Homo sapiens: one gene and its partners. The protein of the gene in region 2 interacts with the protein of the main gene of each other region in a pairwise test. Each region holds a gene or a part of one and is shown on either strand. Other genes may lie near its edges.

Region 1 (3,500 bases), on a different chromosome or scaffold from region 2:
ACTAAAAATAAATTAGCCAGGCATGGTGGTGCATGCCTGTAATCTTAGCTACACGGGAGGCTGAGGAAGGAGGATCGCTTGAGCTCAGGAGGTCAAGGCTGCAGTTAGCCATGACTGCATCACAGCACACCAACCTGGATGACAGAGCAAGACCCTGTCTCAAAAAAAAAAGGAAAGGCCGGGCGCGGTGGTTCTCACCTGTAATCCTAGCACTTTGGGAGGCCGAGGAGGGTGGATCACAAGGTCAGGAGTTCGAGACCAGCCTGGCTAAGGTGGTGAAACCCCTATCTCTACTAAAACTGCAAAAATTAGCTGGGTGCGGTGGCAGGCACCTGTAATCCCAGCTACTCGGGAGGCTGAGGCAGGAGAATCGTTTGAACCTGGGAGGCGGAGGTTGCAGTGAGCCAAGATGGCGCCATTGCACTCCAGCCTGGGTGACAGGGCAAGACTCCATCTCAAAAAAAAAAAAAAAAAGGAAAAAAGAAAAATCACAATCCTTCCTCCTTTTAAGAAAAGCATAAGCACTATGTCTGAGCTCATACTCCTTTTTATTCATCATTGCTAAGCTGCTCTTACAAAACACATCAGAAATATGTTAAATAACCAAGCCGAAGAAAAGATTTTCTAAGCAGTTCATAAAACTTTACTGTTTTATGAACAAAGAGATCAACTAATTGTATACAAAGGAAGTCTATTTAAGGGATCATTTCATTTTATGGTGTTTTCTTTTTGGAGCCAGGGTCTCTCTCACTCTGTTGCCCAGGCTGGAGTGCAGTGATGCAAACACAGCTCACCACATCCTAGACATCCCCAGCTCAAGCGATCCTCCCACGTAGGCCTCCCAAAATGCTGAGCAGTCTTATTTATCCATGTATTCCCAAGGTCTTACACAGACACTCCAAAAATGTGTGCTGAAGAAATGAATAAACAATTGTATTCCTGAACAAGGGCCCTTCCTTTCTGTACTAGGCTATGAAGATATAGATTGCTTCAGACACAGCACACAGTAGATGTGCAGCACTATTTTTATTGAGAAATGAGAATTAAAGCAGAAACAAAGAAGTAGGATTGGGGCAAAGACATAAAAAGAATGGAGACTGCAGTATGAATTCAGACCAGAATTCACACCTTGGGAAGGAGGCAAAAAATAACGTAATGGAAGACATGACTAACTGGTATTAGGCAAACAGAAGGGAAAGCAGGGGAAAAAAGCTTCCAGGAAAGATTTTGAGAAATGAGAAGCAGAAATGTCCAGTCATGACGGGATCAATGAACCCATCATGATCTTAGAGCAATGTAATATTGAACGGTGACCAAGATGTGTTACAAAAGGACTCCCAAACCACCTTGGGATCTGCTGGAAGCCCTTTGTCATGATTATTGCCTCTGGGATTGCTACCTGTGTCTTACTCTCTTCTCTAGAGCCTGCTGGAAGGTGCAGTCTGCAGAGACGTCAGTCCACCTGCTCCTCTGGGGCATTTTACAGACAAACAGGCCACCAGTCTCTGCCCACTGAAGAGCTCCAATGTCAATCATCTCTCCGTTCCAACCTGGTGAGCTGAAGGATCTGAGAAAATGTGAAGCAGCTCCCCTTTGCCAAGAGATATAGGGCTTCTAGTGGAAAAGTACAACAAACGAACCTAACAACTTAGGAACAGCTTCATCCTTTCTTTATTAAAACAGCTTTAAGGCACAGGGAAATCTAACTCACACAATCCTATTAGTAGTCATTTTTCTCCCTGGGTAAAAACAGACCCGTTAGGAGCAGCTTTAACTTTCCTAGGCACTGTGATGTCATTTGTTGTATGTTCTGTATCATTTGGCCTTTCTAAGAGTACAAACAAGCCCATCCCTGTCTCTCACTTCTCCTCACAGAGGCTCTAAAAAAGGAAAGGCTGGGGGAAGAGGGATAATCTCACTGGAAGTACTTTAGCAGGGCCAAAGTTGAATAATATGACAGATGAATATCATATTACCCAATTTTGGATTATAAAATCTTACTCAAGAAGTTACAGTCTTCCACACAGTGTATGATAAAGTATCAAGTAAAGGATACGGTTGATTAAAAAATATAAATGTAGGTTGGGCGTGGTGTCTCATGCATGTAATCCTAGCACTTTGGGAGGCTGAGGTGGGAGGATCGCTTGAGCTCAGGAGTTCAAAACCAGCCTGAGTAACATAGTGAGACCCTGTCTCCACACACACACAAAATAGCTGGGCAAGGTGGCAGGCACTTGTACTTCCATCTACTTGGGAGGCTGAGGTGGGAGGATCACTTGAGCCTGGGAGGTGGAAGCTGCAGTGACCTGAGATCGCATTACTGCATTCCAGCCTGGTCAACAGAGCAAGACCCTGCCTCCAAAAAAAAAAAAAAAACTCAAAACAAGATCTTGGCCCTAAGAACAAAGATTAGCAGATAAATATACATTTATATATACATACTTTATATATTACTAATTATATATTATGTGCAAAGAGGAAGCAAATGAAAATATTAAATAATCAGGCCAGATGTGATGGCTCATGCCTATAATCTCAACACTTTGGGAGGCCAAGAAGGGAGGATCACTTGAGCCAGGAGTTCCAGACCAGTCTGGGAAACATGAGACCTCATCTCTACAAAAAATAAAAAATATGGCCAGGCACAGTGGCTCATGCCTATAATCCCAGCACTTTGGGAGGCCGAGGCGGGCGGATCACCTGAGGTCGGGAGTTCGAGACCATATTACATATTATTAGCAAATAAATCTTTTATATGTATATAAACATGTAGTTATTTGGTAATCTTTGTAGGGCCAAGATCTTGTTTTGTTTTGTTTGTTTGAATTGTTAAGTTGTCTTTCTTTCATATGCCACATCCATAATCAATGACCTATGTTTTCCAGTCCTAGTTTTTATAAAGAACAAAAACCTAAAAACATTCATGAAGTAATCTATGTGCAGAGTCCTTCTAGACTTTTAAGATCCCCTCTCCAGTCTTCTCAGTTTGTTTGTCCATATAAGTGAGCAGTAATTTCTTTTTTTTTTTTTTTGAGACAGACTCTTACTCTGTCACCTAGGCTGGAGTGCAGTGGCGTGCTGTTGGCTCACTGCAACCTCCGTCTCCTGGGTTCAAGCAATTCTTGTGCCTCAGCCTCCCATGTAGCTGGGACTACAGGCTGCACACCACCGTGCCTGGCTAGTTTTGTATTTTCAGTAAAGAGGGGGTTTCACCATGTTGCCTAGGTTGGTCTCAAATTCCTGGGCTCATGTGATCCGCCCACCTTGGTCTCCCAAAGTGCTGGGATTATAGGCGTGAGCCACCATGCTGAGCCTTGTTCTTTTCTGAACTCAAAGTTCACTGGTTAAGTTGCACAATTACAATAACAAGTACAATGAACATAAACAGATAAAGGAATAGAGGTAACTAATTGTAATCACACAATTTGGCAGCTGGGAGGCCACCTGGTTGGGGTACACCAGACCCAGCAGCCTGCTGTGTAACAGCCAAGCATTCAGTG
Region 2 (3,500 bases):
GAACCCAGGAAGCGGAGGTTGTGGTGAGCTGAGATTGCACCATTGCTCCAGCCTGGTCAACAAGAGCGAAAACTCCATCTCAAAAAAAAAAAAACTGTTCTGGAAAAACAAACCAATGATGGATAGCCCTATAACAAGTTATTAAGATATTAGGTTGTCAATTTTTGGTTCTTAAAATCAGTAACAGGAATGTAAAGAACTCAGAGGAGACATTTAGAGAGATTAATATAATGAACCAAACAAATATTTGGTAGAAAATAGATTACTTCCACTGCTTTTCTAGAGCAGTGAGAGAATGGTCTCAACAAATCAGTATCATTACTAAGTTCCAGGACAGGATGCCTCATACCCCATTAGCAAGGCAGTCTTTTATGCTGTTAGTAAAAAGACTCTCCTTTTTCCTATTGAATTACCTCAGTTATTTCCTGCATTATCTGCCTAATCTATGGGCTCATCCTGATTTGCTTAAAAGGTCTGAGGTTTTACACATGGATTATTTGCTACTCTGGCAAACCAAGTGTTTTGATCTCTACTGAAATTTTTCCTTCTCCTATTTAATGTTCTCACTTTCCCTCTTCTTTTTTTCTTAACATTGTTGTTCCAAATTCTTAAGACTAACAGAAAGAACACTTCAAACTTGAGGTAAAATTTTCTTGCAGCTATTTAAAAAATAGTAATCTACAATAAAACTAACTCACCAACTGGATGAGTGATGGGATTCTGTAGGCTGGGAATTACCACAGAGTACGTAGGTGAGCGGTAAGGATAAACTGTTGTAGGATTTGTAGAGATGATATTCTGTGTGGTACCAGAAAATACATTGGAAACACTTAGAGGGAATCGTTTTCGCTTCCCTGGACGAGGCTGATAAACCCAACCTATAGAAGACAAAATATGTTTAAATGTGTAGACTCCATTTAGCCTTTAAATAATTTTTTTCATACTAAAATGCAAAGCACTTTAAAGTGTTTTAAAAACAAATTATTGTCTAAAGTATCTTTTCCAGCTCCGGGATATTATTTCAGTGAATGACTTCTCCACTGTGTATTTTAACATACATATCCAAATAGCTCCTGACTAGTGGCCAATGTTATAACTCATCATTGAAAAGAAGAGGGTCAAATTTTTTTTTTTTTTTTTTGAGACGGAGTCTTGCACTGTTGCCCGGGCTGGAGTGCAATGGCACAATCTCGGCTCACTGCAACCTCCGCCTCCCAGGTTCATGTGATTCTCCTGCCTCAGCCTCCTGAGCAGCTGGGATTACAGGTGCATGCCACCACACCCGGCTAATTTTTTGTATTTTTAGTAGAGACGGGGTTTCTCCGTGTTGGCCAGACTGGTCTTGAACTCCTGACCTCGTGATCCGCCCGTCTCGGCCTCCCAAAGGCTGGGATTACAGGCGAGAGCCACTGCGCCTGGCCAAGGGTCAAATGTTTTATAACCAATGACACAGAATGAACCTGTAGTAGAGTCAACATCAAAACCGCTGTATTTGAATCCCAAAGCCTTTCCTCCACCTTATCAAATAATGCCTCACTATGACATTATTCATCTCATTTCCTCACTTTCTGTAAGTTACAATCATCTATATCTTACAATGCAATAGTCACTAATGATCAGTCACTATTTTTTTTGAGACAGAGTCTCACTCTGCCGCCCAGGCTGGAGTGCAGTGGCACGATCTCGGCTCACTGCAAGCTCCACCTCCTGGGTTCATGCCATTCTCCTGCCTGAGCCTCCCAAGTAGCTGGGACTACAGGTGCCCAACACCATGCCCAGCTAATTTTTTTATTTTTTTTTTTAGTAGAGATGGGGTTTCACTGTGTTAGCCAGGATGGTCTTGATCTCCTGACCTCGTGATCCACCCACCTTGGCCTCCCAAAGTGCTGGGATTACAGGTGTGAGCCACCGCGCCTGGCTGATCAGTCACTAATTTTGTGCCTAGTTCAAGAAGAGTCACTCTCCTAAACTCAGCAATCTCCAAGTCCACAAATAACTTAATTTCTTCCAAAGTCAGAACAGTGGAACTATGGCATTTGCAGCCACTGTGTAATCAGAACAATCACTGGTTCACTGTAGTTGCTGCCTCTGACCTTCATTACTAGAACCTCTCTGCCAATATTTCAGAAAATAATAAGTTTTGTCCCACCTTGCACAGACATGCTGGCCATGCACTGTGCATTTTCCAAGCTTAATCCCAATGTTCCCACTGCTAGGGAGAAATCGGACTCCTTTCACACTATATCATGACAGGGCTAAATCTATCAATCAGAAGGCAGGACTATGTTCTGACAATCATATGTTAAAATGGAATATGGTGACAATCCCTGCATTCTCATTAAGCGTAGACTGCATTTTTTTTCTGTTGCTATCATTTTAACACTTCTATAGTTTACTTGCAAAATTATAGCCTAAAGCTTTCAAGATGTACTTTCATTAAACTTACATCTATCTAAATCAAAACCACAATAAAACTGCGTGTCCTCTGATTTGTATGAGTTGGTGAATATGAAATCAGATATCCCTTTGCTTGGTTCTATTTAAGGAAACTCATGCCCAGTGTCATTTCAATCATTGTTATAATATTAGTCATTATTCTCTTTATTGTACATATCAGAAAAAAATTATATATTTTTGTCTTTCAATCTCAACCTACCCTAATCTTTAACTAAATAAATTCATTTAAAAGAAGTAAGAGGCATTATTTAATTTGATTACCAGGAAATTCCTCTCTGTGCTTTTCCTTAATCTTTTGTGCTTCATCGTAATAGGGTTTCTTTTGTTCTTCACTAAGTTTGTTCCACTCTAACCCAAGCTGGACACTGATTTCTGCATTGTTGGCTGCTGGGTTAGCTTTGGCTAGTGCTGGTCGGTGGATCCTTGCCCAAACCATAAATGCGTTCATGGGTCGCTTCACATGACCATTTCTGTCCTTACTGAAGGGAGTATCTGGTATGCCTACATGACAAAAATTAAAAGGCTAAATTAATGTGCCATACACACACACACACACAATTTTAAGGTAAAGTGCACCTCCGTCTATACTTATTTTTGAAATATCTGGAGGAAATATACACTTCAATATAACCAAAAAAACCTGCCAGTATTCCACAATTCCTTACATCCCCTGAACTCATCATTCTGAACTGTAGTTTAGAATGACTCCTTTTCCTCAAAGAGGATAATATTGTTGAAGATAACTGTGGCAATAATCATGTTGAAGAGAGTAAATTGTTGGCTTATTACTTCTTTGATCTGTATTATTAGTACCTCTAACAATAATTAACATTTATTTATTTACTACTAAAAATATTCTACCATTAAGGAACAGGAACCATGCATGACTTACTCGTGACTATAATCTTAGCTAGGTAGAGGTTCTCTAAACATTCACAGGAACTCATCTACATGCTGCTCTTGTGTCCTTTCAAGCAAAACTATTTATAATATTGTAATACTATATTAGTTGTATTTCACTACGAAGGTGAAGCTCTTACCAA
Region 3 (3,500 bases), 9.2 Mb from region 2:
TAGGGAACTTGGCAATTTATATCTCACTGTTATATTTAAATGCCTACTAAACCAGAGAATCCTGATTGAGATAAATGACGTCAGTCAACTCAGAATCCACTTCTGTGTATGTCCTTTATTAAGTACTGACTGCATTATAGAACTGTGAATGTGTAGTAACATATACCCTATTCAAATGAGACTGCTGCCCAGTCTTTAAGAGAGAATGCATTTTCTTGTCTTCTAGGAGCCTTTGATAACATTGCTTTTTTCTCATGGCATACCCTCCCCCATCTCTAGTTATGAAATCTCACTCGGCCATCTGCGTGGCATAAGTGTTTGTCTCCTTTTTGGGAAGGCAAACTCCTTGAGGGAAGGATCATGTGTTGTGTTTTTATTTGCACCCAGCATATTTTAAGTTTTGAGACACTTGACAATATGATGAACTGACTCTTTTGAGGCCAGGCTTACACACTGATTACAAAGAGGCATTTAAAATTTCCTTTAAACCCTCTTTTGGCATTAAGCACAGAACCTTATATACAATATACTCTTAATAATGATAATGACACTAACAGTAGTTATATGATGGCTTACTATATACTAGCACATGTTTTAGAGTTTCACATATATTAAATATCACAATAATCCTGGGTATATCATTATTATTCTAATTTTACAGATGAAGAAACTAAGACATCGAAGTCAAATAATCTGCTACAGGTCAGACAGCCAGAAATTTAATCAGGCAGTCTGAACCAGAGACTGTGCTCTTAAACCACAGGTAACTTTTAATAAGTATAAAAACCTGTTGAATAACAACTCCCTATATCATACATAACCTGTAAAAACTAAAATATCATTACTGTAGGTTGGGCAAGTGAATGAATGCCAAATCCAAAAGGCTAAAGACTAACAAGAAAAAGAAAAAGAAAAACACCACAATATGTGTATCATCGGAAAGAAGCAAAGCTCGTTACCTGCTGCATTGGGCGTAGGTATATGATGCGGTTTCTCTCGGGTGGCATTCTTAGTATCTGGTCTAGTACCTGATCCATGTTCAGTTTCTTGCACTGTGCATAGTCAAATCGGTTTACAATTGGTGCATTTTCTACCTTTAAATGTTTTAGTACCCTGCACCTGGTAGCTACAAAATGAAAACAATGGTAAGCTCCGTACATATCATCTTTGGAGAGATGGCCTAATTTTTGTTGGCACAAAATACTGCAGTAACAAACATCTTTAACAGAGGTCAAATAATATCATAGAGTACAAATCACAGTTAACAAAAAAATTTGAAAATGTGGTTCTGTTCAATTCAAAAGAAGGTAGAAGGGGCATTAAAGTGCCTTTTTCTAAGATTTTACTGTTAAGAAAACCAAGTCTCAGAAAATGACTTGCCCAGACAGAAACTGTTTAGGAAATATTTATTTAAAAAATGAGTAACTATTATACATTTTTATAGTCAATAGTCAGACCTGAAATAATTCACCTATGTTACCTTACATTCACTCTCAGGAATGAGCAGAGTTGGATTTTAATTCCTGTCACAAACGTAAAAGTAGAACCTTGAAAAAAAAGACCCAGAAACACATTTGGATACTTTGGTCTAAAGCTATTCAGTCCAATCTAGTAGCCATGTGGTTAGTGGTTACCATAATACTGAACAGTGTAGACACAGAACATTAAAGTTCTATTGAAATGCTCATCTAAAACATGATTAGTTTTTCTGTTTGACATATAAAACATGAAGTCAGAAAAAAGTAATTTTGATATAATAAACACATTTAACTGAACTAGTATATCAACTTCAGAAAAATATTTCCTTCTCTTTTTTTAATCTCCAATTTCAACCTGGTCCAATTTTCACTGCAGATTTCAACCAGGTCCAACTTGAGAGAGATCAAATGGAAAAGATTATAAAACCACAGGCTCATTTGTCTGATCTTAACATTTCACAGACATCTGTAACATCCTTGACCCAAATGTCATCATCGTCTTGTGCAATCTAATGTAACTAACTTGACATTTAAACACTGAGAGAGACTCCCGCCTCTCACGTTCATTTTCTCCTTTTGTGACTTGGTGGAAAGAAGGGGAACTGTTGTTGAGGACAGCAACAGAGGAAAGGAGAGCGCTAGATGACAGTAAGGATCCAGTGGTTCTTAGCTATAAAATCCGACATGACTAAGGTCAGTTCTAATCTCATTTAATCATCTCCGCTGTCATTAACTTAGCCACTACCTACAGACTAAGCTAAGATCCTCTCACCACGATAAGCTGAGCCAAACAATTTGGTTTAAAGGGGAGAAGGTTGGGCCTGAGGCCGTGTGATCCATCATTAGGTTAGAGAAGGTACAGGAGAAATCATCAAAGTAAAAAGAAGAAAACTAGTCAGATTCTCGGAGAGCTCAGAGTAGAGAAAGGAATGGAACGAGATGCCGACTGGCAGAGTCTGAAGATTGAGTTTTACATTCTCAGAGCTCAAAGGGTGTAGGTACTGACAGAATGAAAGTTCTTCCAGTGCTACTGTAAGGCTAGGGTGAGTACCCCTACTGTTACAATCTCTGAGCTTTTGAAGAGCCTGTGTTCTCCACTGTAAAAGGAAACTCCAATAGGAGATAGTAATTTAAGATGTTTTAGGACCAAAGACCACATTGGCTGGGATAGAGAAAAGTACTACTACTTCAGAGTAAACAATAGAGTCTGGGGTCCCCAAGGTCTGAACTTTTGTAGAATTCAGAGGAGAAGTAGTGCTTGAATCTCAGTTTCATCTCTCCTTTCTTGGGTTCTCCTCAGTTTATGACAATATGTTTGGTAAATACCTTTTAATGGGATTTCTTTGTTTACTACTAATATGGTAGGAGATATAAAACAAAATAGACCTCAATATTTTTTGGCAATACAGGTTGACGAACCTTTATCTGAAATGCTTGGGACCAGAAGTGTTTTAGATTTCAGATTTTTCTTCAAATTTTGGAGTATTTGCATTATATACTTACCCTAATCAAAAAAATCTGAAATCTGAAATGCTGCTCCAATGAATATTTCCTTTGAGCATCATGTTAGTGCTCAGAAAGTTTTGAATTTTTAAGCACTTGGGCTTTCTGATTTTTAGATTAGAGATGCTCAACGTGCACTAACATAATACAAATTAACATCACTAGGCATTACTAGAGGTCAGACCCTGTACTGTGTGTGTGGGTGTGTGCATATGTCATGTATATATATACATATACAGGCATTTCTCATTTTATTGCACTTTATTGTGCTTCGCAGACATTACACTGTTTACACAAGGTCTGTGGCAACCATGAATTGAGCATCTACTGGTGCCATTTTTTTAGTAAGCACGTGCTCCCTTTGAGTCTTTGGGTTACACTTTAATAATTCTTGCAGTATTTCAAACTTTTTCATTATTATTTTATCCATTATGGTGGTCTATGATCAATGATCTCTGATGTTACTGTTTTAATTGTGGGGTGCCACAAACTGCACCAATATAAGTGAACTTAATAAAT
Region 4 (3,500 bases), on a different chromosome or scaffold from region 2:
AGGCAGGAGGATCGCTGGAGGCCAGAAATTCGAGACCAGCCTGGGCGGCAACAAAGCGAGACCCCGTCTCTACAAAAATATTTTTTATTTTTATTTTATTTTTCCGTCAAGCTGTTCTTTATTTCAGGAAGAGGGCAGGGGAGGGGGCTCAGTCTTTCTTGGCAGCGGCTTTCCTCATGGCAGCCAGTACCTTGCTCAGCTCCTCCCGCTTCCTCTTGGCACGGATGTGCGTCCCCACCCTTTTCTTGATGAACTTGAGGGCCCATTTCTCCTTGAAGACCTTCAGTGACTCCATGGCGCGCAGCTCGTACGAAGCGAAGCCACACACCTCCCGGATCATGTCCCGCTACAAACTTGGTGCGTTTGCTCAGACGCCCGCGGCGGCGGCTGTGCCTGGGCTTGCTCACGTTCTTGGTCACCTTGTGGCCCTTGTTGAGGCCCACGGCCATAAGGTAGCGCAGAGCCATGGCTGCTGCTCTCCATGGCGGCCGTGGCGGAAGGCCAAAAATATTTTTTAAATTAGCCTGGTGTTGTGGCTCGTGCCTGTAATTCCGGCTACTCCGAGGTTGAGGCAGGAGGACGGCTTGAGCCGGGGAGATGGAGGTTGCCGGGAGCGGAGATCGCGCCACTGCACTTCAGCCAAAAGGGGGGTAGGAGGGAATAAGTAAATAAAATTAAATAAATAAAGTGGTATCTCACTGTGGTTTTGATTTGCATCTACCTAAGGACTAATGATGTTGGGTATCTTTTCATGTGCCAGTTGGCTATTTGTGTAGCTTTTTCTTTTTTTTTTTTGAGACGGAGTTTTTTTTGTTTGTTTTTGAGACGGAGTTTCGCTCTTGTCGCCCAGGCTGCAATGCAGTGGCACCATCTCGGCTCACTGCAGCCTCCACCTCCCGGGTTCAAGCGATTGTTCTGGCTCAGCCTCCCAAATAGCTGGGACCACAGGCGCCCGCCACCACACCGAGCTGATTTTTGTATTTTTAGTAGAGACGGGGCTTCGCCATGTTTATCAGGCTGGGCTTGAACTGCTGTCCTCAAGTGATCCGCCAGTCCCAGCCTCCCAAAGTGCTGGGATTACAGGCGTGAGCCACTGTGTCCGGCCCTAAATAATGTCTTTCGATGCACGGAAGTTTTCAATTTTGATGAAGCCCAATTTATGTGTGTATGTGTGTGTGTATATATATATATGTAGTGTGTGTGAGTTTTGGGTGTCATATTTGAGAAATCATTGCCTAATCAAGATCATGATGATTTATACCTTTGTTTCCTTCAAAGAGTTTTATAGTTTTAGATCGAGATCCATTTTGGTTCATTTTTGTCCCATATGGTATGAAGTAAGGATCCAAATTCATTCTTTTGCAGTTTGATATTCAAATGTCCCAGCAGTTGAAAAGACACTTCTTTCTTTCATTGAATGGTCTTGGCACCTAGATGAAAACCAGTTGACCATAGATAGGCATATGGGTTTATTTCTGGTCTCAATGCTACTCCATTGATCTATATTTCTATCCATATGCCAGTAACACAGTGTCTTGATTACTGTAGCTGTGTAATGAATTTTGAAATTGCGAGGTGCGAGTCATCCCAACTTTGTTCTTTTTCAAGATGATTTTGGGTATTCTGGGTCCCTTGCATAATATGAATTTAGGATCTGCTTTTCCATTGCTAAAAAAATGGCATTTGGAATTTTGATAGGGATTGCATTCAATCTGTAATTTCTTTCAACAGTGTTTTATAGTTTTCTGTGTACACGCCATATATTAATTTTGTTAAATATATTCCTAAGTACTTTTTCTCTTTTTTTTTTTTTTTTTTGTAACTGAGCCTGAGCAGGACCAGAGGAGTGCTTTATTCTTTTTGATGCCATTGTAAATGTAACTTTTCTTTCATATTCAGGCTGTTCATTGCCTGAACCAGTGTATAGAAATACAACTGGTTTTTCTATATTGATCTTGTATCCTGCAACCTTGCTGAATTCATTTGTGAGGTCCAGTAGATTTTTGGTGGATTCTTTAGGATTTTCTGTATATAAGATCATGTTTGGTTGCCTTTTCTTTGTCTTGCCTAATTGCCTGTCTAAAACTTCCACTACAATGTTGAACAGATGTATTGAGAACCAACATCTTTGTCTTATTCCTGACCATAGAGGGAAAACTTTGTCTTTGGCCACTAAGTATGATGTTAGGTGTGGGTATTTTGTAGATGCTCCTTATCAGGTTGAGGAAACTACCTTCTGTTTCTAGTATGTTGAATGTTTTTTTAATCATGAGAGGATGTTGCATTTTGTCCAGTGCTTTTTCTGTGTATCAATTGAGAAAATCATGTGAGGTTTTCCCCATCTATTAGTATGGTATATTGATTGATTTTCATATGTTGAACCAACCTTATATTTCTGAGATAAATCGCGCTTGGTCTTGGTATATAATTCTTTTTATATGCTCCTGGATTTTGCTTGCTAGCATTTTGTTAAGGATTTTTGTGTCTCTGTATTCATAACCCATACTGACCTATATTTTTCCTTCTTTTTTTTTTTTTTTTGAGAGATGGAGTCTTGCTCTGTTGCCCAGGCGGGAGTGCAGTGGCATGATCTCGGCTCACTGCAACCTCTGCCTCCCAGGTTCAAGCGATTCTCCTGCCTCAGCTTCCCAAGTAGCTGAGACTACAGGTGTGCACCACCACGCCTAACTAATTTTTTGTATTTTGGTAGAGATGAGGTTTCACTCTATGTTGGCCAGGCTGGTCTTGAACTCCTGACCTCAGGCGATCTGCCTGCCTTGGCCTCCCAAAGTGCTGGGCTTACAGGCGTGAGCCACTGCACCCGGCCTTGACCTATATTTTTCTTCCTATATCTTTGTCTGATTTTGGTAACAAGGTAATACTGGCCTTATAAAATGATTCGGAAAAATGTAGTAAATATCTTGGAATCATTTTTGTAGGAGCAGTTCCCAGAAGGAAGGCATGTACATTTGTAAGTTACTTGATAAATATTTTCCAGTCATTTTCCAAAAAACCAAATTGTGTTTATTTGTGATTAACATTGCCTTTGCAGAATAGTAGTCTCTTAGAAATTATAATTCTTAATGCCTTGAGGTACTTAAAAGTTTCTCTGAAAGACAAAGGCAAGCCCAACCTTCTGCAACACACCTGATTTTAACATCTAGAGCAGCTCCAAAGGTGCTAGATGCAGCATGTTACCAGCAAATTGTTTTCGAGTGCTTCCTACATAGAACAGGTTTTCTCAGCTTTAGCACTGTTTTGGGCCAGGTAACTCTTTTGTTGTTGTTTTTGAGATGGAGTCTTGCTATGTTGCCCACACTGGTCTCAAACTCTGGACTCAAGCCATCCTCCCACCTCAGCCTCCCAAGCAGTTGGAACTGCAAGTGTGAGCCATCACACCCAGCTGAATAATTTTTTTTTCTTTCTTTCTTTCTTTCTTTTTTTTAATGTTGTTTGTTTGAGACGGGATCTTGCTATGTTGCGCAGGCTGGTCTTGAACT

The links. The genes of interacting proteins can lie anywhere in the genome.
Region 1: the proteins of SOX30 (region 2) and NUDT3 interact in a two-hybrid assay, tested with the Homo sapiens proteins (one large-scale study listed by BioGRID and IntAct).
Region 3: the proteins of SOX30 (region 2) and FBXO38 interact in a two-hybrid assay, tested with the Homo sapiens proteins (one large-scale study listed by BioGRID and IntAct).
Region 4: the proteins of SOX30 (region 2) and DCAF4 interact in a two-hybrid assay, tested with the Homo sapiens proteins (one large-scale study listed by BioGRID and IntAct).

What each region holds. Positions count from the first base shown.
Region 1 is NC_000006.12:34,382,670-34,386,169, forward strand, and holds part of NUDT3 (diphosphoinositol polyphosphate phosphohydrolase 1), read right to left. Parts: intron 1-3,500. UniProt on the Homo sapiens protein: Cleaves a beta-phosphate from the diphosphate groups in PP-InsP5 (diphosphoinositol pentakisphosphate) and [PP]2-InsP4 (bisdiphosphoinositol tetrakisphosphate), suggesting that it may play a role in signal transduction.
Region 2 is NC_000005.10:157,645,939-157,649,438, forward strand, and holds part of SOX30 (transcription factor SOX-30), read right to left. Parts: intron 2,959-3,500; coding exon 2,719-2,958; intron 879-2,718; coding exon 699-878; intron 1-698. UniProt on the Homo sapiens protein: Acts both as a transcriptional activator and a repressor. Binds to the DNA sequence 5'-ACAAT-3' and shows a preference for guanine residues surrounding this core motif. Binds to its own promoter and activates its own transcription.
Region 3 is NC_000005.10:148,435,958-148,439,457, reverse strand, and holds part of FBXO38 (F-box only protein 38), read right to left. Parts: intron 1,127-3,500; coding exon 960-1,126; intron 1-959. UniProt on the Homo sapiens protein: Substrate recognition component of a SCF (SKP1-CUL1-F-box protein) E3 ubiquitin-protein ligase complex which mediates the ubiquitination and subsequent proteasomal degradation of PDCD1/PD-1, thereby regulating T-cells-mediated immunity.
Region 4 is NC_000014.9:72,929,464-72,932,963, forward strand, and holds part of DCAF4 (DDB1- and CUL4-associated factor 4), read left to right. Parts: intron 1-101; exon of another isoform or gene 102-293; coding exon of another isoform or gene 294-357; exon of another isoform or gene 358-501; intron 502-3,500. UniProt on the Homo sapiens protein: May function as a substrate receptor for CUL4-DDB1 E3 ubiquitin-protein ligase complex.